Regions from separate parts of the Homo sapiens genome. Here region 2 is linked to region 1. The links come from fine-mapping of genetic effects on plasma protein levels. A gene starts in region 1. The other region holds a variant in brackets. All regions are shown on one strand. Distances are between the middles of the regions.

Region 1 (11,304 bases):
GCTGCCAATGTGAGAGGATTAACAGATGGGGCCTGTGATAGGTGATTAGGCGAGGGGGTCTCCTTCCTCATGAGTGGGATTAAGGCCCTCATAAAAGAGGCTTCGCCCAGCACGGGGCTCACCTGCCCTTCCACCTTCTACCTCCCACCGTCTATGTAAGGACGCAGCATTCCTCCAAATGCAGCTCTCACCAGACAGCCAAACCTGCCAGCACCTTGATCTTCGACTTCCCAGCTTCCAGAACTGTGAGAAATCAATTTCTCTTTTTTATTAACTACCTAGTCCCAAGTATTATGTATGGCAGCACAAAATAGACTGAGACACACCCTATGAGGTCAATACCATGAGTAGCCCCATGTTACAGATGAGAAAACTGAGGCACAGGAGAGAAGCAAGTTACCCAAGTGTGTAGTCATTAAGTGGTGAAGCTGGAATAATTTAAAAACACAGAGAGTGGCTGGGCGTGGTGGCTCACACCTGTAATCCCAGCACTTTGGGAAGCCGAGGCAGGCAGCTTGCTTGAGCCCAGGAGTTTGAGACCAGCCTGGCTAACATGGAGAAACCCCGTTTCTACCAAAAAAAAAAAAAAAAAAAAAATTAGCTGAGCGTAGTGGTGTGTGCCTGTAGTCCCAGCTACTTAGGAAGCTGAGGTGGGAAGATCATTTGAGCCAGGGAGGTGGAGGTTGCAGTGAGCCGTGATCACACCACTGTACTCCAGCCTGGGCGACAGTGAGACTTACAAACAGTGAGAAATACAAACAACAGCGTACAAGGGCATAGAGCGAATTGCCAGAGAAAGGACGCTTACCCCCACAGTTGCTCCTGATAATGTGCGCTGCTACTTCATACCCTACCATGAACAGTGGGTGGAGCTGGGAGAGAAGGCATCTGCAACTTTTTTGGCAGGGTGGGGGTGGGGGCGGGGGAGATGGAGTCTTGCTCTGTCACCCAGGCTGGAGTGCAGTGGCGCCATCTCGGCTTACAGCAACTTCTGCCTCCCGGGTTCAAGCGATTCTCCTTCCTCAGCCTCCGAATAGCTGGGATTACAGGCGCGTGCCACCACGCCCGGCTAATTTTTTGTATTTTTTGTTTTAGTAGAGACACCATGTTAGCCAGGATGGTCTCGATGTCCTAACCTCATGACCCACCTGCCTTGGCCTCCCAAAGTGCTGGGATTACAGGCGTGAGCCACCGCGCCCAGCCGGCATCTGCAACTTTTTTGCACCATCTGAATAACTAGAAATAACTAAAATAACTAGAAAGGCACATTTAAACCTTAAGCTCTCTTCCTGCTTTTATTATTGACCACATCTAGCAAGGCAAGTGCCTCTTGGGCTAAATTCAGCGAAGTGTAACTTTCAGGGCCCAATATGCCAAACCAGGGGATTTCCAAACTTGGTCCTAGGGTTTTGGACTCTTAAAACTAAGACTCAGTGGAATAGGTGTCTGGTGATGATTTCAATGCGCTGGAAGTGATTGACTTGCTTGGGATAGCTTGGAAAAAGGAAAAGGAAGCTCTGAGGCTGCCTCAACAAATTCCTACCTCTTTAACCCATGGATTTAACATGATTGGGAGGGAAGTGAGCATATTCAGCTCTAACAGGCATTTTCTTTGTAACTTACCTTGCCATTAGTCTTATCAATGTTTACTGATCGCCGCTCTGACAGTTTTTGTTTGTTTGTTTTTTTGAGACAGAGTTTCGCTCTGTCGCCCAGGCTGGAGTGCAGTGGCGCGATCTCGGCTCACTGCAAGCTCCGCCTCCCAGGTTCACGCCATTCTCCTGCCTCAGCCTCCAGAGTAGCTGGGATTACAGGCGCTCGCCGCCACGCCCGGCTAATTGTATTTTTAGTAGAGACGGGGTTTCACCGTGTTAGCCAGGATGGTCTCGATTTCCTGACCTCGTGATCCGCCTGTCTCGGCCTCCCAAACTGCTGGGATTACAGGCGTGAGCCACAGCGCCCAGCCAACAGTTTTTATTTTATTGACTTCTCATCAATGTTAACAAGCATTTTCTAAGTAGTAAGACAGTCAAGGCACTTCTCAGAAAATGAGCAAATCAGGATATCCATCTCTTGCTCTTTCAAGGAGCTCAGACTCTAATAGCTATAAGCAGGCCTGTGACTTTACAATTTTTCATGTAAGGCAACACACAAGCAGGAATAATATATTTGCAACAAATATAACCATCAAAGTGCAGTACCTGGAATAGGTAGATCCCCAAAACAACTCAAAAGAAAAATGATCAAAAGAAGGTTGTGGGTGGGTCGCGGTGGCTCACACCTGTAATCTCAGCACTTTGGGAGGCTGAGGCGGGCAGATCACCTCATGTCAGGAGTTAGAGACCAGCCTGGTTAACATGGTGAAACCCCGTCTCTACTAAAAATACAAAAAAAAATTAACCAGGTGTAGTGGCAGGTGCCTGTAATCCCAGCTAATCGGGAGGCTGAGGCAGGAGAATTGCTTGAATCCAGGAGGCGGAGGTTGCAATGAGCCGAGATCGCACCATTGCACTCCAGCCTGCGCAACAGAGCAAGCCTCTGTCTCAAACAAACAAACAAAAAGATGCTTGTGAATAGGCAATTTAAAAGTTTTCTGGGCCCTGGAGGGTTCATTTTCCCTTCCTGCCACTTAACTAGCTGAGCAACATGACCTGGGAGGAGTTAGACTATTAGAGTTTACCCTGAGAGAGGCCACAAGATGCACACACGGATAACCTCTTCAGGGTACAATGGCATTAGTGTGTTAGGAGAGGTAAGGGACAAAGTTCAACAGAAGGCTGGGTGTGGTGGCTCATGCCTGTAATCGTAGCACTTTGGGAGACCGAGGCGGGTGGATTACTTGAGGTCAGGAGCTAGAGACCAGCCTGGCCAACATGGTGAAACCCCGTCTCTACTAAAAATACACAATTAGCTGGGCGTGGTGGTGGGCGCCTGTAATCCCAGCTACTTGGGAGGCTGCAGCACAAGAATCGTTTGAACCTGGGAAGTGGAGATTGCAATGAGCCAAGATCACGCCACTGCACTACAGCCTGGGCAACAGAGTGAGTGAGACTCCATCTCAAAAAGTTCAACAGAGGAAAACTTCAGGACCTCAGGGCTGGCCCATTCGGAAAGGCCCTCAGAGGAGCTTGCCATTTGAGCTGAATCTTGGTCTTGAACTCCTGGCCTCAAGCAGTCCTCCCGCCTCAGCCTCCCAAAAGTGCTGGGATTACAGGAATGAGCCACCACTCCCAGCCAAAATTTTTTTTTTTTTTAATTAGCTGGGTTTCAAGTTCTTCTGCTCTGACCAAAAAAAATTAGCTGGGTGTGGTGGCACACACCTGTAGTCCCAGCTACTCGGGGGCAAAGATGGGACAATCACTTGAGCCCAGGAGGTCAAGGCTGAAGTGAGCCCTGATCATGCCACTGCACTCCAGCCTGGGCAACAAAGCAAGACCCTGTCTCAAAAAGAAAAAAAGAAGTATGATAAAGATAAGCCTTTGTATCAGTTTCATGCATTCTCCTTCTGCCTTCTCTTCTCACTTGAGTGCTCCAGGGAACATGAGTGCAAATCAGATGCATCTATTAGTTGCAAACAAAAAACCTGGATGCTTTAGTTAACCTCAAGATTTGGTTAGCTGGGTACAGCTAAAACTAATTATACAAGATCCAAGTCTTCCCTTTTCACCTCATTACCACCGCCCTTTTTTGTGTTTAAGCTACACGTAAATACAGAACATTCTGTAAGATTGAAAAGTCAGGAAATAGTTCCTGCCCTAGTATTGGAGGAGAGGGTGCCAGTGCCTCGACGCTGAAGAATGAAATACAAGGGAAACAGCAACCACCGTGTATGCGGCAAGCCTCTCAGCTGTCAGAATCTATTCCCTGCTGTCTCTGCCAGTAACTCATGCTGGGCTACCAATCCCCAGCTTAGTCCCTTTCTCAGAGATCCTGATAATTTCAGTTTGTCAACTGCAAGGGCAGTCTGTTCCTCCACTCACTTTGACCAAGATGGGCTTCTTTGTGTACAGGCGCATTTTTAGAGGCAGGACCAGGTCCACAGGGAAGGAAATTACAAAACACAGGATTCTGCCCCAGATGAGGCAACAGCTTTCTAAATCTTAGTACTGTCCAATCTCAGAGTGAGATTATTTGGGAAACAGCTCTCAATCCCTGCAGTTGTCTCAGCTGGTTATTTATGCCTTGGGTGGAGCTGGGGTGACCTCTGAGTTCCCCTAGGGTCGATGGCCGAGTGGGAAGGCTCTATCACTGAAGTGGACCCAATACTAGAAACGGATCCAGTACGATCTGATCAGGTTTGCCTAATCCAAGGGCCTCAATGGAAAATGCCTCCCAAGGCCAGGCACGGTGGCTCACGTCAGTAATCTCAGCACTTGGGGAGGCTGAGGTGGGTGGATCACCTGAGGTCAGGAGTTCAAGACCGCGCTGGCCAACTTGGCGAAACCCGTCTGTACTAAAAATATAAAAATTAGCCGCGCATGATGGCGCACTCCTGTAATCCCAGCTACTCGGGAGGCTGAGATGGGAGAATCGCTTGAACCCGGGAGGCGGAAGTTTCGCTGAGCTGAGATAGCGCCATTGCACTACAGCCTGGGCGACAAGAGCAAAACTCCGTCTCAAACAAAACAAAACAAAACAAAACAAAACAAAACCTGTGCCTGGCAGCCTGGAGCCGGTTCTGGTCTCCGTCAAACCAAAGGCATCAGTTTCCTCCACTCCTGTCCACCAATCGCCAGATATTCTCATTTTCTTCAGAAGCTCGGAATCCACATTTTTAAGTGAAATCACCCATTTTAATGTTAGCAACTTATTTCAAAGTGTTTTAGATACTATAGACCAAAAGAGGTATGGGCTGTGACCGTAAGCCTGATTTGGCCTCTGACGGCCAGTTTCTGACCACAGTTTTGGAGGGAATTTCTGCTTCCAAGGTCAAGTTTCTCCTAAATGCCCACTAGAGTTCGTGGGGTGGAGTGAGGAAGGATCCGCGACACCGGATACAAACAGAAGCTCTCCTTCTCCCGGAGTCCGATCAAGGCTCATCCCAGGTCCCTAATCTCTTCCCTTTGTGGGTTTTGAGTCAAGGAACAAAATTCAGGGCCAAGCCCCTACAACCTCCTCCACAGGCACCAGTGCTCGAGAGACGACCGCCAAGCACCCCGCCCTTTGCAGCACTCACCGACCATGGCTCTGGTGCAGTCCGGGGCGCTGATTGGCTGGGCTCGTGGTTGCCGGGGCGACCCTGGCCGGAACTAGGCTCTCGGTGAGCTGGGCGGCTCCGGCTGCAACCTTGTGGGAGTCGCGTGTGTAGTGCACGGTGCATTCTCTCTTATATATCCTGTCCGGCCCGTTTGAGGTGGACAGCCTACAAGGGCGGGACCCAACGCCTGAATCCTGGGGTGCTGGGCGGAGGATGCTGAGGCTGCAGCTCCAGGAAGGGAGGGAGCCTGGGGGATGAAGGAGGGGCCTCTCCACTCTCACCCGCCGGAGCAACTGGTGGAAGTCAAGAAAAGTCTCTCGGGGCTGGGGGAGGGGATTGTAGGGGTGTGTGTGACAGAGGCCTCAAAAATCTGGCTGGGGGTGCTAAGGCAAGCCCATCTGCGCACTGTGCCCTGAGGTGCAAGAGGATGCAGGGTGGAAGTCGTCCCAAGAGAGTCCAGGGATCAAGTGGGCATGCCCTTTTAGCCTTGGCACGAAATGGAGCAGAAAAAGAGCCGGATGCGGATTACTGTGGTGCCCTAGGCTCAGATTCTGCTGAGTCACTGTGACTGCGGATTTGGAAGGCTGAGAGTCCTGGGGAGACATGCTCCGTGGAGACGAATTTGTTTCTTCCTTTGCAAGATTCAGATTCTGCACTTGGGGGCCCATACAACACACTTCCCTGGGTGCATGCCACTGCACCACCCCTGCTCCTCAAGGCAGGTAATGGGGGAACTAATTGGTTTTGTTTCCCATGAGCTAAGGCAAGGCTGGTGTGGAGATAGCAGTTATAGGGAAGCATATTAAAGAATAGCCAAAACGGGACCAGGCGCGGTGGCTCACGCCTGTAATCCCAGCAATATGGGAGGCCGAGGTGGGTGGATCACCTGAGGTCAGGAGTTCGAGACCAGCCTGGCCAACCTGGTGAAGCCCCGTCTGTACTGAAAAATTAGCTGGGCGTGATGGCGGGCGCCTGTAAGTCCCAGCTACTCGGGAGGCTGAGGCAGGAGAATCGCTTGAACCCGGAAGGCGGAGGTTGCAGTGGGTCGAGATCGTGCCACTGCACTCCCGCCTGGGTGACGAAGTGAGACTCCGTCTCAAAAAAAACTCTATAAAGTAAAAGTTACTGTAAAGAAGGAGATATACTCTCAGTAGGTGAAGGAAAAAGAACTAGAGCTTTAAAGTGGTAATTAACCATCAGAAGAATCACAGATGGGGGAGGTGAGGATGACACAGGGCCCTTCCGTTGTCCCTCCAGTGCAAAAGTTAAGGAGGCACCAGAAAACTGGTTTCCAACTCCCGACCTCAGGTGATCCTACCGCCTCGGCCTCCCGAAGTGCTGGGATTACAGGCATGAGCCACCGCGCCCGGCCCCATCGTGACATTTTTGCATTCATTTTGATGCAACAAGAGAGGACTATATTATTTACACGTATTTACAAATTACTTTGGGAGGCTGAGGCAGGAGGATCACTTGAGCCCAAGAGTTTGAGAAAAGCCTGAGCAACAAAGTGAGACCCCATCTGACAAAATAGTATAAAAGGACGTTTTAAAAAAGGGCTAGGTAGGCAGCCCTGTCCAATAGAACTTTCCCTATCTGTGCTGCCCAAGTAAGGTAGCCACAAGCTTCAAGTAGCTATTGAGCACTGGAAATGTGGCCAGCAGCCAGGCGTGGTGGCAGGCGCCTGTGTCCCAGCTACTCAGGATCTGAGGCAAAAAGATCGCTTGAGCCCAGGAATTCAAGGCCGCAGTGGTGGACTCAATAAAAGAAAAAAAATGGAAATTAAAAAAAAAAAAGTGGCCAGTGGACTGAGGAAGTGAAGTTTTAATTGTAATTAAATTAATTTTTTAAAAATTTATTTTTTGAGGCGGGGTTTCACTGTGTCGCCCAGGCTGGAGTGCAGTGGCAGGATCTTGGCTCACTGCAATCTCCATCTCCTGGGTTTAAGCAATTCTTGTGCCTCAGCTTCCTGAGTAGCTAGGACTACGGGCATGCACCACCACAGTCAGCCACTTTTTGTATTATTCGTAGAGATGAGTTTCACCATGTTAGCCAGGCTGGTCTCAAACTCCTGACCTCAGGTGATCTGCCCACCTCGGCCTCCCAAAGTGCTAGGATTACAGGCATGTGCCACTGCGCCTGGCTTTAATTAAATTTAGATAGCCACATGTCACTAGTGTTTGGAAAGACCTGAGCTGGTTCAGATCGAGGCCGCAGTGTGCTGGCTATTCTATCTCTCACTCTTCTAGTGAGATTGTTTTCTCAATCACCAGTCTCCCTGACCCATCCAGAGGTGGGGCTCAAAGCCACAAAGCTCAAGTGTCGTGTTCGGTCGTTGGTTTCCAGCATGGCCAGTTCCCATCCTCAGTCATCTTGTTAACATGAACTATATAGGGGCCCATCCCAAGTCATCTCATTAGCATAAACCATCAGGAGTGGTCTGAGAAGCCCACAATGAATAAGATGGACACTCCTATCATTTGGGATTTAGGGGCTCAGGGGCATGATGATAGTTCACTGCAGCCTCGACCTTCTGGAGTCAAGCAATCCTCCTGCCCCAGCCTCCTGAGTAGCTGAGATGACAGGTGCATGCCACCGTGCCTGGCTAATTTTTTTTTATTTTTTTGGTAGAGATAGGGTCTCACTATGTTGCCCAAGCTGGTCTCAAACTCCTGGGCTCATGTGATCCTCCCGCTTTGATCTCCCAAAGTGCTGGAGTTACAGGTATGTGCCACCACTCCTGGCCAAATTTGTTACTACACAGTGGTAAAGACAGACATTTGAGGTGGCAGTGAACCAAGATCATGCCACTGCACTCCAGCCTGGGCAACAGAGGGAGATCCTGTCTCAAAAGAAAAAAAGAAACTTACTGGCCGGGCACAGTGGCTCAGGCCTGTAATCCCAGCACTTTGGGAGACTGAAGCGGGTGGATCACTTGAGCTCAGGAATTGGAGACCAGCCTGGCCAATGTGGTGAAACCCCGTCTCCACTAAAAATACAAAAACATGAGCTGGGTGTGGTGGTGGGCGCCTCCAGTCCCAGCTACTCGGGAGGCTGAGGCACGAGAATCGCTTGAATTCAGGAGGCAGAGGTTGCAGTGAGCTGAGATTGTGCCACTGCACTCCAGCCTGGGCAACAAGAGCGAGACTCCATCTCAAGAAAAAAAGAAAAAGAAAAAGCTGCTGTGGAGCATGGGCGAGCACTGCTGCCTGGACAAAGACCGAGGGTCCTCGGGAGGGCAGTACTGATGTACAGGTTTCCAGCAGGTCGGCGTGTGTGTTCTCTCCTGCAGGTCTGCAGCCAGGCGTGCCAGGAGAGGGGGAGTCTGAGGGATTGATGTAGGTTGGGAAAGCATGATGAGAGGAGACAGAGTGGGGGCTGTGAAGAAGAGAGCGACTTGATGGTGGCGGTAGTTACACAGATGTATGTATTTATTAAAATCCGCTGAAAAGTACATTTTAAATACAAGCATTTTATTGTATGCATGTTATTCCTCAACAAAGTCCATTTTTAAAAAGTAGAGTGGTTGGAGTGATGACGAACATTATGAAAGGGCTTATTGGCAGAGAAAAAGTAGAGGGGTCCAGAGACTCAAGTTCCTAACGAGGCTGAAGTAAGAGTGGGGGATTAAATAAGGGCAAAAACTGAGAGAATAAAAAAAGTGGGTTGTTTGGGGCCAGGTGCGGTGGCTTATACCTGTAATCCCAGCACTTTGGGAGGCCAAGGCAGGGGGATCGCTTGAGCCCAGGAGTTCAAGACCAGCCTGGGCAACATAGTGAGACCCCCCCGCAACCCCCCCCACCTCTGCCATCTCTAAAAAAATTAAAAATTAGCTAGGTGTGGTGGTGTGCACCTGTGGATCCAGCTACTAAGGAGGCTGAGATGGGTGGATCATCTGAGCCTGGGAAGTCGACGCTATAGTGAGCTGTGACTGTACCACTGCACTCCAACCTAGGCAGCACAGTGACACCCTATCTAAAAACAAAAAGAAAAAACAAAAACCCAAGTGGGTTGATTGGGAAACACAGGAGATAGAAGTTAAAATCATGGGGAAACATCAGTCAAATCACAGTGTGGGACATTCTACAGGACAACCAACCTGGTTTATCCCATAATTCAGTGCTATAAGAAAAATGAAGGAGTGTATATTGATCAGGATTTTCCAGAGAAACAGAACCAATTGAATTTCTATAAATATATAAAAAGCAATATATTGCTGGGTGCAGGGCTCACACCTTGTGATGGTTAATAATGAGTGTCAACTTGATTGGATTGAAGGATGCAAAGTATTGATCCTGGGTGTGTCTGTGAGGGCGTTACCAAAGGAGGTGAACATTTGAGTCAGTGGGACTGGGAAGGGCGGACCCATCCTCAATCTGGGTGGGCACCAACTAATCAGCTGCCAGTGCGGCCAGAATATAAAGCAGGCAGAAAAACGTGAAAAGACTAGACTAGGCCTGGTGCCGTGGCTCACGCCTGTAATCCCAGCACTTTGGGAGGCCGAGACGGGTGGATCACTTGAAGTCAGGAGTTCAAGACCAGCCTGGCCAATATGGCAAAACTCATCTCTGCTAAAAATACAAAAAAATTTAGCTGGGTGTTGTGGTGCATGCCTATAATGCCAGCTACTCAGGAGGCTGAGGCAGGAGAATAGCTTGAACCCAGGAAGCAGAGGTTGCGGTGAGCCGAGATCACACCGCTGTACTCCAACCTGGGTGACAGAGACTCACCTCACCAAAAAAAAAAAAAAAAATAAGTGGGGCTAGACTGGCCTAGCCTCCCAGTCTACATCTTTCTTCTGTGCTGGATGTTTCCTGCCCTCCAACATCAGACTCCAAGTTCTTCAGCTTTGGGACTCGGACTGGCTTCCTTGCTCCTCAGCTTACAGATGGCCTATTGTGGGGCCTTGTGATTGTGTGAGTTAATACTACATATGTCTATCTTATTACTTCTGTCCCTCTACAGAAACCTGACTAATACACACCTGTAATCCCAGCACTTTGGGAGGGCAAGGCAGGCGGATCCCTTGAGGCCAGAAATTTGAGACCAGCCTGGGCAACACAGCAAGACCCCATCTCTACAAAACATAATTTTAAATAAAATTAGGCCCGTGTGGTATTATGCGTCTGTAGTCCCCCTCACTTGGGAGGCTGAGGTGGGAGGATTGCTTGAGCCCAGACAGTGAAGGCTGCAGTGAGCCAAAGATCTCACCATCGCACCCCAGTTTGGGTGGCAGAGTGAGATCCTGCCTCAAAGAAAAAAAAAAACAAACAGGTGTGGTGGCTCACACCTGTAATTCCAACACTTTGGGAGGCTGGGGCGGGCAGATCACTTGAGGTCAGGAGTTTGAGACCAGCCTGGCCAATATGGCAAAACTCCATCTCTACTAAAAATATGAAAATTAGCTGGGCGTGGTGGCATGTGCCTGTGATCCCAGCACTTTGGGAGGCCCAGGCGGGCAGATCACGAGGTCAGGAGTTCAAGACCAGCCTGGCCAACATGGTGAAACCCCGTCTCTATTAAAAATACAAAAATTAGCCAGGTGTGATGGTACATGCCTATAGGCCCAGCTACTCGGCAGGAGGAGAATTGCTTGAACCCTGGAGACAGAGGTTGCAGCAAGCCGAGATCACACCACTGCACTCCAGCCTGGGCAACAGAGGGAGACTCCATCTCAAAAAAAAAAAAAAAAGCTGTATTTTATGAGGGATTGGCTCATTTGATTCTGGAGGCTGGGAAGTCACACAATCTGCTGTCTGTAAGCAGGAGGCTGGGGAAAGCTGGTGGTGTGGTTTTGGTCCAAACTCAAGAGTGAGAACCAGGGGAGCCAGCGTTGCAAGTGCCACTCCCAGTCCAAAGGCCCAAGAACCAGGAACAGCAGTGCCCGAGAGCAAGAGAAGATGATGTCCCACCTCAAGAAAAGAGTAAGCAAATCTACCCGGCCTCCTCCTCTCTATTGTACTCGGGCCTTTGGTGGCGTGGATGATGCCTGCCCACCTTGGTGAGGGCAATTTTCCTTAATGCAGCCTGCCGATCCAAATGCTCATCTCTCTCCCAGAAACGCCCTCCCAGACACACCTAGAAACAATGTTCCACCAGCTATCTGA
Region 2 (11,304 bases), 160 kb before region 1:
CCCAAAGTGCTGGGATTACAGGTGCGAGCCACTGCGGCCGGCCAGAGGAAGTTTCATAAAGGTATACAGTTGAAGGGGTAGTTTTAAAAATATATCATTAGACTATTTCAAACATCAAAGAAAAGGGGATGCAACTGAGATGTAAATGATCACAGAGGGAAATATCATTGGAACTAAGAATGGCATATAATTTACTAATGACACAGTGATCAGGTACTTATTTCTGATAACCTTGAATATCATGCAGGTCACATTTTATTTTGTGATTAGAGCAGAGCAAACACTATTTACTAATGAATTTATTTGTGTTTTCCGTCACTGAAATTTGAAAGACAAAATGAAAATCTAGGTCTCTATGCTGTTGCAAAGTATGGCCAAGAAAACTAGCCAACTAAGCAGTTTTTCAAAGAAGGTGTCTTGGGCCAGGCTCAATGGCTCATGCCTCTAATCTCCGCATTTTGGGAGGTCGAGGAAGGAGGATCACTTGAAGCCAGGAGTCCAAGACCAGCCTAGGCAATATAGCAAAATCATGTCTCTGCAAAAAAGGAGTTCAAGACTAGCCTGGGTAATATAGTAAGACCATGTCTCTACAAAAAAATAAAAAATAAAAATAAATAATAAAATGAATTAGCCGAGTGTGGTGGCATGTGCCTGTAGTCCCAGCTACTTGGGAGGCTGAGGTGAAGGATCACTTTGAGCCCGGGAGGAGTTTCAGTCTGCAGCTGCACTGAGCTATGAAGCTGCCACTACACTCCAGCCTGGGCAACAGAACAAGACCCTGTCTCAAAAAAATAAACAAACAAAAAAACCCGAAAGAATAGAAAAGAAAAAAAAGAAAAGAAAAGAATATAGGCCAGGTGCCGTGGCTCATGCCTGTAATCCCAGCACTTTGGGAGGCCAAGGCGGGTGGATCACCTGAGGTCAGGAGTTCGACACCAGCCTGGCCAACATGGTGAAACCCCATCTCTACTAAAAATACAAAAAATTAGCCGGGCATGGTGGTGGGCGCCTGTAACCCCAGCTACTCAGGAGGCTGAAGCAGAAGAATCACTTGAACCAGGGAGGCAGAGGTTGCAGTGAGCCGAGATTGCACTGCTGCACTCCAGCCTGGACAACAAGAGTGAAATTCCATCTTAAAAAAACAAACAAAAAAGAGAATATATCTCTGTAAGAAGACAGGTGCAGGGGGTGGGAGTGGACACTGATTTTTCAAATACCTATTTAGATATAATCCGTGCTTAATGCAGGACCTAATGAGGTAAGTGAGGCCTGAGCCCACAGAATCCCTCTCAGGGAATTCGCAGTTTAGGTCAAGCCACACTTTGGTGGGCCTCTCTTCACTTTGCTCTTACCTAATCAGGGGAAATCTGATTAACATATACAACAAAGCCTCAACGGGGAATAAAAAGGTCACAAAAGGGCAGAGAAGGATTCACAGAAAAAGGAAGAGGCCTTGCCAGTTCTTGACTAGTTAATTAGGGTCAGAACCGTACTGGGGATTTCCTATACCCTAAGTTTGTTAAGTGATTACATCGGTCTGGGGAAAAGGGATCTGCTCAGAGTGATTCAGTCAACTTTCTTAGTATCGGGTGGTGAATCGCATTTCCTCTCTGCTACCCTGTATACTGACTAATGGGTGGCGTATGGGGGGTCTCCAAGAGGTGTGTTTACTCCAATTCAGAAGCTATAGGATTTCAGTAGGCCTTGGCCTGTTGGGCAATGTGAGGTTTCAATCTTTCTCTCTCAAATGAGTGGGGCTCTTATCAGTTATGAAGGGACTTCCCTTGGGACTTGTCACGACACCATACAGCAGAGATGGCAATTTGAGGGCAGTTTCTTGTTCTGCTTTGCCATCTTGGGGTGGCTCTGAAAAGCTTTCTGAACCTCCGACAAAAGAAAAATGTTCACAGGATTGATTACTACACACAATTCAGTGAAGACAACTGGGCAACCTGAATCAAATGTTGAGATGAAAGATAGGTGAGCTCTGATGACACACGTTTAAATTCTAGGTCTACAGGTAAAACTTTGTAAAGGGCCTTGCCTCAGCGACATCTGTACTGGGCCCTCCTTTGCTGAGAGCTTCTTACCCCAACCCTAGCACTCCAAGTCCCGAGAACTGCTCAATTTCATGGGAAAAAGTCTCTATAATTATATATATATGTATATATGTGTGTATATATGTATGTATATATATGTGTGCATATATATACACATACACATATTACAACAGACTGATTTTCATGAGTTGTAACTATCCTTGTAGATAAAAAACGAAACCATTCGAATAGCTTAAAAACCATGCCCACGTGGCTACTGGCATCAATATTCCACACAAGATTAAAATTACTTCCCAAGATGCACACCCTGCACTCCAGGTAATATTTCAATAACTTGATTAAAAATTTCTCAGAAGTCTATTAGAATCAGAAAACGCTCTGCGGTGTGGGTGAGGATTTTAAATTTTTGCAACGGAAACTTTTGGCTCCACGAACAGAAAAGCAAGAGCAAAAACTCAGTTAAATGCGTTCTTCCTCCATCTTTGCCTAGTCCAAAAGGAAAAAAAAAGAAACAGAAAAAAGAAAAACTGTTTGGAAGAGTAGCGTTGAGGTTTGCTTTTTACCTGTTTTTCCTCTAGAACAGCCAGGTGGATTCACATGATCCAATTTTTTAATTGTCTTCTATGTCCCACTCCGAATAACCCGGATGCCCCAGCACAATCAGAGAGATCGTTTTTTTTAAAAAAAATTTCAGCCTCCAAAGGTAGGAGGGGAGTGTTAGGGGAGAAAGTACTTTAATTAAAAATCAATAACTCGAGGTTTTTGGGATACGGTTTGCCATTTCCTAATTAAGAAATGGGTTTGACAGTCCCTTTGTACACACTGCTATGCAAACCCCAAAGGGTTGGCGGCTGTCCGGGCGATGACACTCCGGTCCCCTGCGAGACCCCGGGCCAGCCAGGCCCGTCCGCCGCCGGCCTCTGGGGTCCGTCCCCGGCTCGCGCAGACCTCTCGCTTCTCTCGGCTCTGTCTCCTGCGCTCAGCTCTGCTCGGGGCCGGCCGCCTCAGGCTCGCCGCCACCAGGTCGTTGCAAATACCTTTTCCCTCCCCGGGGCCCCAGCGCGCGGCCACCTCCCAGCCTCCCCCCCTCCCACCCTGGCAGCGGGGCCCTTTCCCGGCTCAGGAACAGCAGCAGCCCGGGCCGCGCCGGCAGGAAGCGAGGCCCATGTTGCTGCTGTTCCCTGGCGCGCCTCCCCGCCCTCCGGGGGCCGCCACGGCTCTTCCGCGCTCCCGGGCACCCCCCTCCGCGCCTGCGCTGTGCCCCACGGGGGCGGGGCTCAGATTCCTGTCAGCGGCGGCGGCGGTGGCGGCGACCGTCAGTTTTCGCTGAGGAGAAACACGAAACGGACCCTTTGGCTCTCCCCCTTCCCCTTCCCCGTCCTGAACCCCTCTCCTGGTCACCGAGAATCAGTCCCCGTGGAGTTCCCCCTCCACCTCGCCATCGTTTCCTCGGTCCTCGGCCCAGTGGAAGTCACTACCCTCGAGGAGGAGGCAGCGGCAGCCGCCCTCGCGTCGCCGCCCCCGGTTCGGTGCCCGCGGTCCCGGAGAGGAGGTGCCGCCGCCACCGCCGCTCCCCCCCTCCCGCTGCCCTCGGGCCGGGCTGGGTCGAGCTGCGATGCCCTCGGACTTCATCTCATTGCTCAGCGCGGACCTAGACCTGGAATCGCCCAAGTCCCTCTACTCGCGAGGTGAGTCAGGCTGTGGGGGGTGGGGCGTGGGGGCGGGGAGACAGGGAGACAGGGAGACAGGGCCAGGGGAGGCGAGGGGTCCCCGTCCCGCCGGGGGCGGCTGAGCCGCGACCCCCATGGCTTCTTTGGCCGGAGCGGGCAGAGGCCGAAGGGATCGGGGTGACGGTGGAGGGGGCGGGCGGAGCAGTGGCGGCCCCTCCCCCGCGGAGCCGCCGGCCGCTCGGGGCCCAGATTCCGTCGGCCCCCGGGGCTCTGCGGCACCGGTCGCTTCTAGCCGCTCTCAGCCCGTCCGGCCCCGCCAGGCTCCGCGAGCCGCCGGCCCCGGCCTCCCGGGCTCGGGGATGGCCCCAGACTGGGCCCCGCGCTGGGGCCACCGCGATCGGGGCGCCGCGTCTTCTCTTACCGGGACCCTCCTCCCCAGCAAAGTTGCCCCCAAGCGGGCGGCGTGGCCTGGAGCCGGTTCTGAGTGCAGGGTCACCATTTTCCTCCCTTTCCAGCTTGTTTTTGCGCCGTCGTTCCACCCCCTCTCCCTCCGGCCTAGTCCACTCCCTCCCCATGTTGGGACAGCCCCCCTCGACCAGGCGTTCTTCCTTTCCTCGTCATCTTCTTGCTGGAAAGGGCCCGATGGAAAGGGCCCGAATTTTCTTTTCTTTTTTTTTCTCTTCCCACCTCCGTGGCATTCTAATTACTTCTCCCTTCTCCTTTACAAAGATGGGGGTGCCCTCTCTGGATTGGTTTTATTCCTCTCCTCTCCCAGGAGGACCAGCCCAGGCACAGACGCTGTCCTTTGAGAATTTTCTCTGCTTTTCCGTTCAAGGGCTGGTTGCAGGGAGGGAGCTCAGGCAGAGACTTTTCATTTAAGAACTCTTTTGGCTAAGGCCTGCAGGGGATTCCCAGCATCTGAAATATTAGCACTGGAGCTGATCCCTACTCAGGTGAAATTCCTTTACTGGACACCACAAGAATGTGTCAGAACAGGTTCCCTGTGCAAGGGGCTTCAAAACCAAAATATTCCCACTGCGCTCTTTACGCTTTTTAAACCACCGGGAGGGGGCAAAAGACATAACTGGGTTGTTAACTATTCATTTCACCGTGTAAAAAAAAATGTAGGTGTTTCTTCTGCTTTTGGTTTGATGTATCCATCCATTTGCTTATTCCACCCCCTCCAAAAAAGGGACTTCACCTTCCTACTAGTGTATCTAAATTGTTTAAGTGAATCAGAGTGAGATGGTTTACTCTGAAAGGTGCTGGACTTTACAGACTGACCATTGATTTTGTACACAGAGTCCTACTTAGTAATTGTAGCCACTGTCTGTTGCTCCAATGACTTTAGTTGGCAGCCACCATCCTGTAGGATGTTTTTCGGGCAACATTACCTGAGGTACTTTAGAAATATTGTAGTTTTGAATGTCAAAAAAAAAAGAGACATATCAAGAGATGATTCTTAGAGCAGGGCTAATGTGTTAGAATTGAGTGCTAAAAATAGCCAAGACATTAACACCATTTGGGGAGTAATCATCAGATAATTTTCCATGAAACATATACTTTATGAAAATCTAAGTTTAGCTTCGAGACCAATGTAGAGACAATTCAGCCTCTTTTGCGGGGAATATATTCACAAATATGGGCTTTAGCGCTTAAAAATACACTGCAGTTGGCCGGGCGCAGTGGCTCACGCCTGTATTCCCAGTACTGTGGGAGGCCGAGGCAGTTGGATCACCTGAGGTCGGGAGTTTGAGACCAGCCTGACCAATTTGGAGAAACCCCGTCACCCCGTCACTACTAAAAATACAAAATTAGCCGGGCGTGGTGGTGCATGCCTGTAATCCCAGCTACTCGGGAGGCTGAGGCACGAGAACCACTTGAATCCGGGAGGCGGAGGTTGCGGTGAGCCGAGATCGCACCATTGCACTCCAGCCTGGGCAAAAAGAACGAAACTCCGTTTCAAAATGTATGTGTGTATATATATATATGTGTGTGTGTGTGTGTGTGTGTGTGTGTGTAT[A/G]TATATATATATATACACACACACACATTGCAGTTATATAAGAGATGTATGCTATCCTTGGCATTTTTTTCCTCATTCAGCATAAAAAGTACCTAATGCTTTTTGTGTTTTTCAGATTCTCTGAAGTTACACCCATCACAGAATTTTCATAGAGCTGGACTATTGGAAGGTCAGCAAAGTACCATTTTAAAGCATATTGTGTTAGTATGCAAAGGCTTTCTCTGAAATGGAGTTTAAATGGGAAAGTATGAAACTTTGCAAACTCACACAATGTAGTTTTCTCCTAAAGAGTCTGATCCTTCTTTTAGAGCAGCTGAATGTTTCAATGGGTTTTGTTGCTGCGTTTGATGTGCTTGTTGGCTGTTCTATCTGCTTTGAGAAACATTGAAAAAAAAATCATTTTAAATTATGTGTTGAGTGTTCTACTTTAGAATTCCAGACCTTCATTTTAGCTTTTTATACACAAAATAGAATGTGAAAAGGCCCAAACATTAACATGAATATAAAAGAGTGACACCAAACACATAATTAGTTTGAAAATTCAGAATTTAGAACATTTATATGCTGAGCATTTCAAAATATGTTAATTATTTATTGCAAAAGCATTGATGCCATTGTTATTGCATTATACTTAAGGGTAAGGAAAGCCAAGTAATAGCGATGATGATTGAGCTATGCTTAGAAGAAAGGGGTTTAGAAAGTTCTGGAAATGTTAATAGAGTCTGTAGATTAGTTTAAACAGCTTACACTTACTTTAGAAAACTTTTGGCTTTGTGTGTGTGTGTGTTTTAACATTTTAAGACATAAAATAGTCTTGTGTTTTTGTAGATTTTGAAGTGATTTCACATATATCATCTTTAAATCTTTATAATTTTGGAATTGGACAGCAAAGGTACTAATTTCCCCATTGTAGAGAAGAGAAACTAAGGCTGAAATTAAGAAACCAAAAAAAAAAAAAAGTCCCACAGTAGAAGAAATAATACTTTCTGCGTTTCAGTTAGTGCTCTTTATGCAAAGCGGCCACCGTGAAATACACATGTAACCAGTAACAAACATTTTATGGTCTACTTTAAAAAGGCCCTAAATATTTAAGTTTGACTTGAGAAGATTTTTGCCTCCCTTGGAGGTAGTCCGGGATAGTGGGGGGCAAGTGGGTTTTGTAGTTGAGCTTAAATTTGAATACCAACTTAGCTCCTTATTAGTTCTGTGACTTCGGGCAAGTGATTTTACCTCTCTAAACTTTAATATTCTTCCTGTTAAAATGTAGCTGTCTCTTAAATTTAGTGAGCTAATGTGTATTAAATTGCCTAGCATAGCGTCTAGCTTAATAAATGTTAGTTTTTTCCTTTAGTATCAGCTAAATTTTTTTAACAGTATAATTTAGAGCATATAAAATGTTCTCAAATAAATAATTGGTTAAATTTGTTTTGTACGTGTAAGAAGCCCATAGATATACATTAGTATGAAAATCAAATATTTTTAAAACTACAATTTGAAGTGAGAAATTTTTAGCAGTGTTTCTTAGTGAAGCAGATTTCTGGTTTTTATTCATATTCAATTTGTGACCATGTTGTAGAGACATATTTGTCTGTACAAACCCATCTCATTTCCTGGACAACAAACCATAGAGTGTCATAATCATAGAGATGATCAGGGAGGAGAAAGACATGAAGAAAAAAATGAGTGTTAATTATTTAAGCAAATATTTTTAGTGAGCTGATGGAAATACAGACAACCATTTAGCATGTTTATTTACATGTTTATGCCTAAATACTTTCGTTAATTTTTCATTTTAGTTAAGGGGATTCTCATTTAAAGTAAGGCTACCCTTTTAGAAATTATATATAAAATATAACATGTATAAGTATCAATTCTGTCATGCCCTTTAAAATGTTTTGAGACAGGGTGTCTTAAAAAAGTTGTTTGCTTCTGTAATGAAGTGTCTAATCTGTGCCACCTCATTGCTATTTCTTTTTTATTATTGACATTTTAAAGAATACATAAAAGTAGAGAGAATAAAATAAGCCCCATATACCCATCACCACAGTTTAACCAGTATCTAATCTTGCTTCTTTTATCCCTTCTTCTCTCTCAAGCTGGATTATTTTAAAACAAATATCAAACATCAGATCACTTCATACATAAGTATTTCTGTATTACAGTGACTTTCTTATATTAATTATTATTGATATAATTTAATTGTTAATATAATTATTGTATTAATTTTTAATTACTCTGTATAGTTTATAAACTATTTCTTGGAATATTCTAGTTTATTTCAGCAAAGTCTCTTGTGACTCTCCTGCCCTCTTTTCAAGACAGAGTGCTGCAGGAGGCTACCGCTTCTAGTATATAGTATATCCTATAACCTATGTTGAAATTGTAGGCCATGCTGCTAGATTGGAGTTCATATTGTTGCTCTGACATTTACTTGTATGGCCTTAGCCTAATAATTTAATCTTTTTTGCTTCAATTTTCTCATCTTTAAACGGGAGCAATAATAGTGCCTCATCCTAGGTTTTTGTGAAGATTATTTGAGGCAAATTCGTGTAAAGCATTTAATTTAGCACATGCTAAGTGCTCAGTAAATGTTAGCTAAAGTTAAAAAATTTTTAAAAACTAAATGCTAGCTGTAGAGTGTTTACTGTGTGCCAAGAACTTTACAAATAAGAACTCCTGAGGTGGGCATATCACTTGAGGTCAGGAGTTTGAGACCAGCCTGGCTAACATGGTGAAACCCCATCTCTACTAAAAAAAAAAAAAAAAAAAAAAAAAAAAGCCAGGCATGGTGGCATACACCTGTAATACCAACTACTCGCGATGCTGAGGCAGGAGAATCCCTTGAATCTGGGAGACAGAGGTTGTGGTGAGCCAAGATCACTCTACTGAACTCCAGCCTGGGTGACAGAGTGAGACTCTGTCTCAAAAAAACAACAACAAACAAACAAACAAACAAAATAAGAACTCAGCGAATTCTCCTGACTACCCTTTGAGATGGTTATTATTATCCTACTTTAGAGATGAGCAATTGAAGGCATAACTCACCCAGAGTCACAAGCTAGTAAATTGTAGAACCAGAATTCCAACCCAGGTAGTCTCACTTTAGCCTAGCCTCTTGACTACTGTGCTGTACTAACTCCCAATGGTATATACTATCAAGTTCTGTCTAGTAATATTTATGTATGCATGTTTTACATCAGTAGTCTAGATTTTCATCTATAAATAGTATTTAAAAACTTGGCCCAGAGTGAGGGGAATTTAAGTAATTGGTGTGATATAATTTAATTTTTTTATAGAACGTACGTTTTCCAAATTTAAATTTTTTTTTTGGGGGGAAACAAGGTTGGAAAACCTGCACTTGGGTATTATTATTATTATTTATTATTATTATTTTTTTGAGATGGAGTCTTTGCTCTGTCGCCCAGGTTGGAGTGCAGTGGCACGATCTCGGCTCACTGCAAGCTCCACCTCCTGGGTTCACGCCATTCTCCTGCCTCAGCCTCCTGAGTAGCTGGGACTACAGGCGACTGCCACCACGCCCGGCTAATTTTTTTTGGATTTTTTAGTAGAAACAGGGTTTCACCATATTAGCCAGGATGGTCTCGATCTCCTGATCTCGTGATCCGCCTGCGTCAGCCTCCCAAAGTGCTGGGATTACAGGCGTGAGCCACCGCACCTGGCCTGCGCTTGGGTATTATTAAACTTTAGAAGTAGATTCAAAATGTCTACTATTCAACTGAGTTTGCATTTAACCTTCCTATCAAAACAGTGCTAGTCTTTCTTGCAACCTCTTTTTAAATTTAATACGATGATTGCCTGACAATGGGAAAAGGGTCCTGGCTAATTAATTAATGTTATAATACATGGCCATTAAATGATGTTTCTGGTAACCCCATAATTAACATGTGACACTCTTAATAAAATAAGTAAATAAAAATTATGCTGTTACAATTATATTCAAAGTAACTTGTGTTACAAAAATCCTGAACAAAAGTATACATCACTGATTTTCTATTTTTCAATTCTATTTTTGTATTTTCCATCTTTAAAGAACATGGTTTATATATTTTTTTTAAATAAAATTGTTTGCCATTAGTAAGTTCAAATTCGAAGGCTAGGATTCCTTTTTGAAGTGCCTGGGAAAAAAATTCAGCTGCAGAGAAAAGGCACCATTTGTTGTACATTCTATAATGAAAACTATTCATTTTGGCAAATGAAAAACTAAGATAGAAATGAAACTGAATGAATCATTCTAGAAATAGAGAAATATAAGATTATAGAAAAATCATAGATAAAACAGGAAAAATAAGAGTATAAACAAATTGGAAAAATAGATAAATATAAACAATAGATTTAACAATTTTAATGATTTTAAAAGCATGAGTTAAGAGATTATATATCAAATGAAAGAACTGGTTAAATAAGAGCTAAATGCTGATCTGATATAATCTTTGTTATTTATTTATTTATTTATTTATTTTTGATACAGAGTCTCACTCTGTTGCCAGGCTGGAGTGCAGTGGCATGATCTCAGCTCACTGCAACCTCTGCCTCCTGGGTTTAAGTGATTGTCCTGCCTCAGCCTCCTGAGTAGCTGGGACTACAGGCGCGTGCCACCACACCCAGCTAATTTTTGTATTTTTAGTAGAGACAGGGTTTCACCATGTTGGCCAGGGTGGCCTCGATCCCTTGACCTCATGATCCACCCTCCATGGCTTCCCAAAAGTGCTAGGATTACGGGCATGTGCCACCGCATCCGGCCACAATCTTTGTTTAAATTAAACATTTAAGACCGGAAGATTTTTAAAAGAAAATGTGAAATATGACAATGAGTTAAGAGAAAATAAACTATGATTTTTTTTTTACTACTGCTAATCTATTTGATATGGTACCATCCAGAATTATACTTCATAGTGCAAAAATGGAAAATCCTAAACATAGTAGCAATGTTTTATTGACTTTATAGAATATTTCTGATTTATATTTCTTCCTAGGGCCCTTGTTATATCATAGATCATAAATGCCTATAATATTTTATGTACAAAGATACCTTTTTGGAAAGGATTTTTTGAAAACATTTAACATGAAAAATAATCTATTGAATTCTTTTCTTGTTTAGTATCTAATAATCTCTGTGGATCCATGTCTAGTAAACTAAAAGTATTATGGAAATAATGAAGTTCAAACATGTCAAAAGTCATACCTAGTTCATCCCAGCTTCTTGTCTTTAGATCCATCTCTTTCTGATTGCTTACCACCTGTTTTTGTGTCCCTTCCTAAACTCTGCTTTCATTATTTTCACTCAATACTGGAATTCTATTGCTTATTTAAAATAAAAGGATATAAATTCATATTCTAATCCAGTGGTTCTTGGCCTGATTTTAATTTACTCTTGACTCTGATTATTCCAGGAGTCCCCTAAAATTTCAAAGTGGTAGTACAGAAAAACATTTCCCAGTGTGATTAGTATTATATATAAAAAACAGCCACTTTTTTTTTTTTTTTTTTTTTGAGATAGAGTTTCGCTCTTGTTGCCCAGGCTGGAGTGCAA

The links. PIP is the posterior inclusion probability: the model's chance that the variant is causal. Protein levels are from the aptamer-based SomaScan assay of Sun 2018.
Region 2: its variant is fine-mapped to the plasma level of the NQO1 protein (Sun 2018, PIP 0.95).

What each region holds. Positions count from the first base shown.
Region 1 is chr16:69,721,257-69,732,560 of GRCh38, forward strand. NQO1 (NAD(P)H quinone dehydrogenase 1) reads right to left here and starts at 5,304. Exons shown (of 6, transcript NM_000903.3): 1 at 5,177-5,304. The coding sequence starts at 5,183. It overlaps NQO1-DT (NQO1 divergent transcript), which reads left to right and starts at 5,471. Exons shown (of 2, transcript NR_186363.1): 1 at 5,471-5,919. RefSeq lists enhancers at 4,787-5,779, 4,866-6,065, 5,312-5,571, 5,780-6,773.
Region 2 is chr16:69,562,627-69,573,930 of GRCh38, forward strand. NFAT5 (nuclear factor of activated T cells 5) reads left to right here and starts at 3,340. Exons shown (of 15, transcript NM_138713.4): 1 at 3,340-3,748; 2 at 5,869-5,922. The coding sequence starts at 3,676. It overlaps MIR1538 (microRNA 1538), which reads right to left and starts at 3,242; the gene lies at 3,182-3,242. RefSeq lists enhancers at 1,408-2,304, 1,707-1,846 and silencers at 2,966-3,345, 3,065-3,241, 3,536-3,805, 3,826-4,135. The variant A/G (reference allele first, on the strand shown) is at 5,754.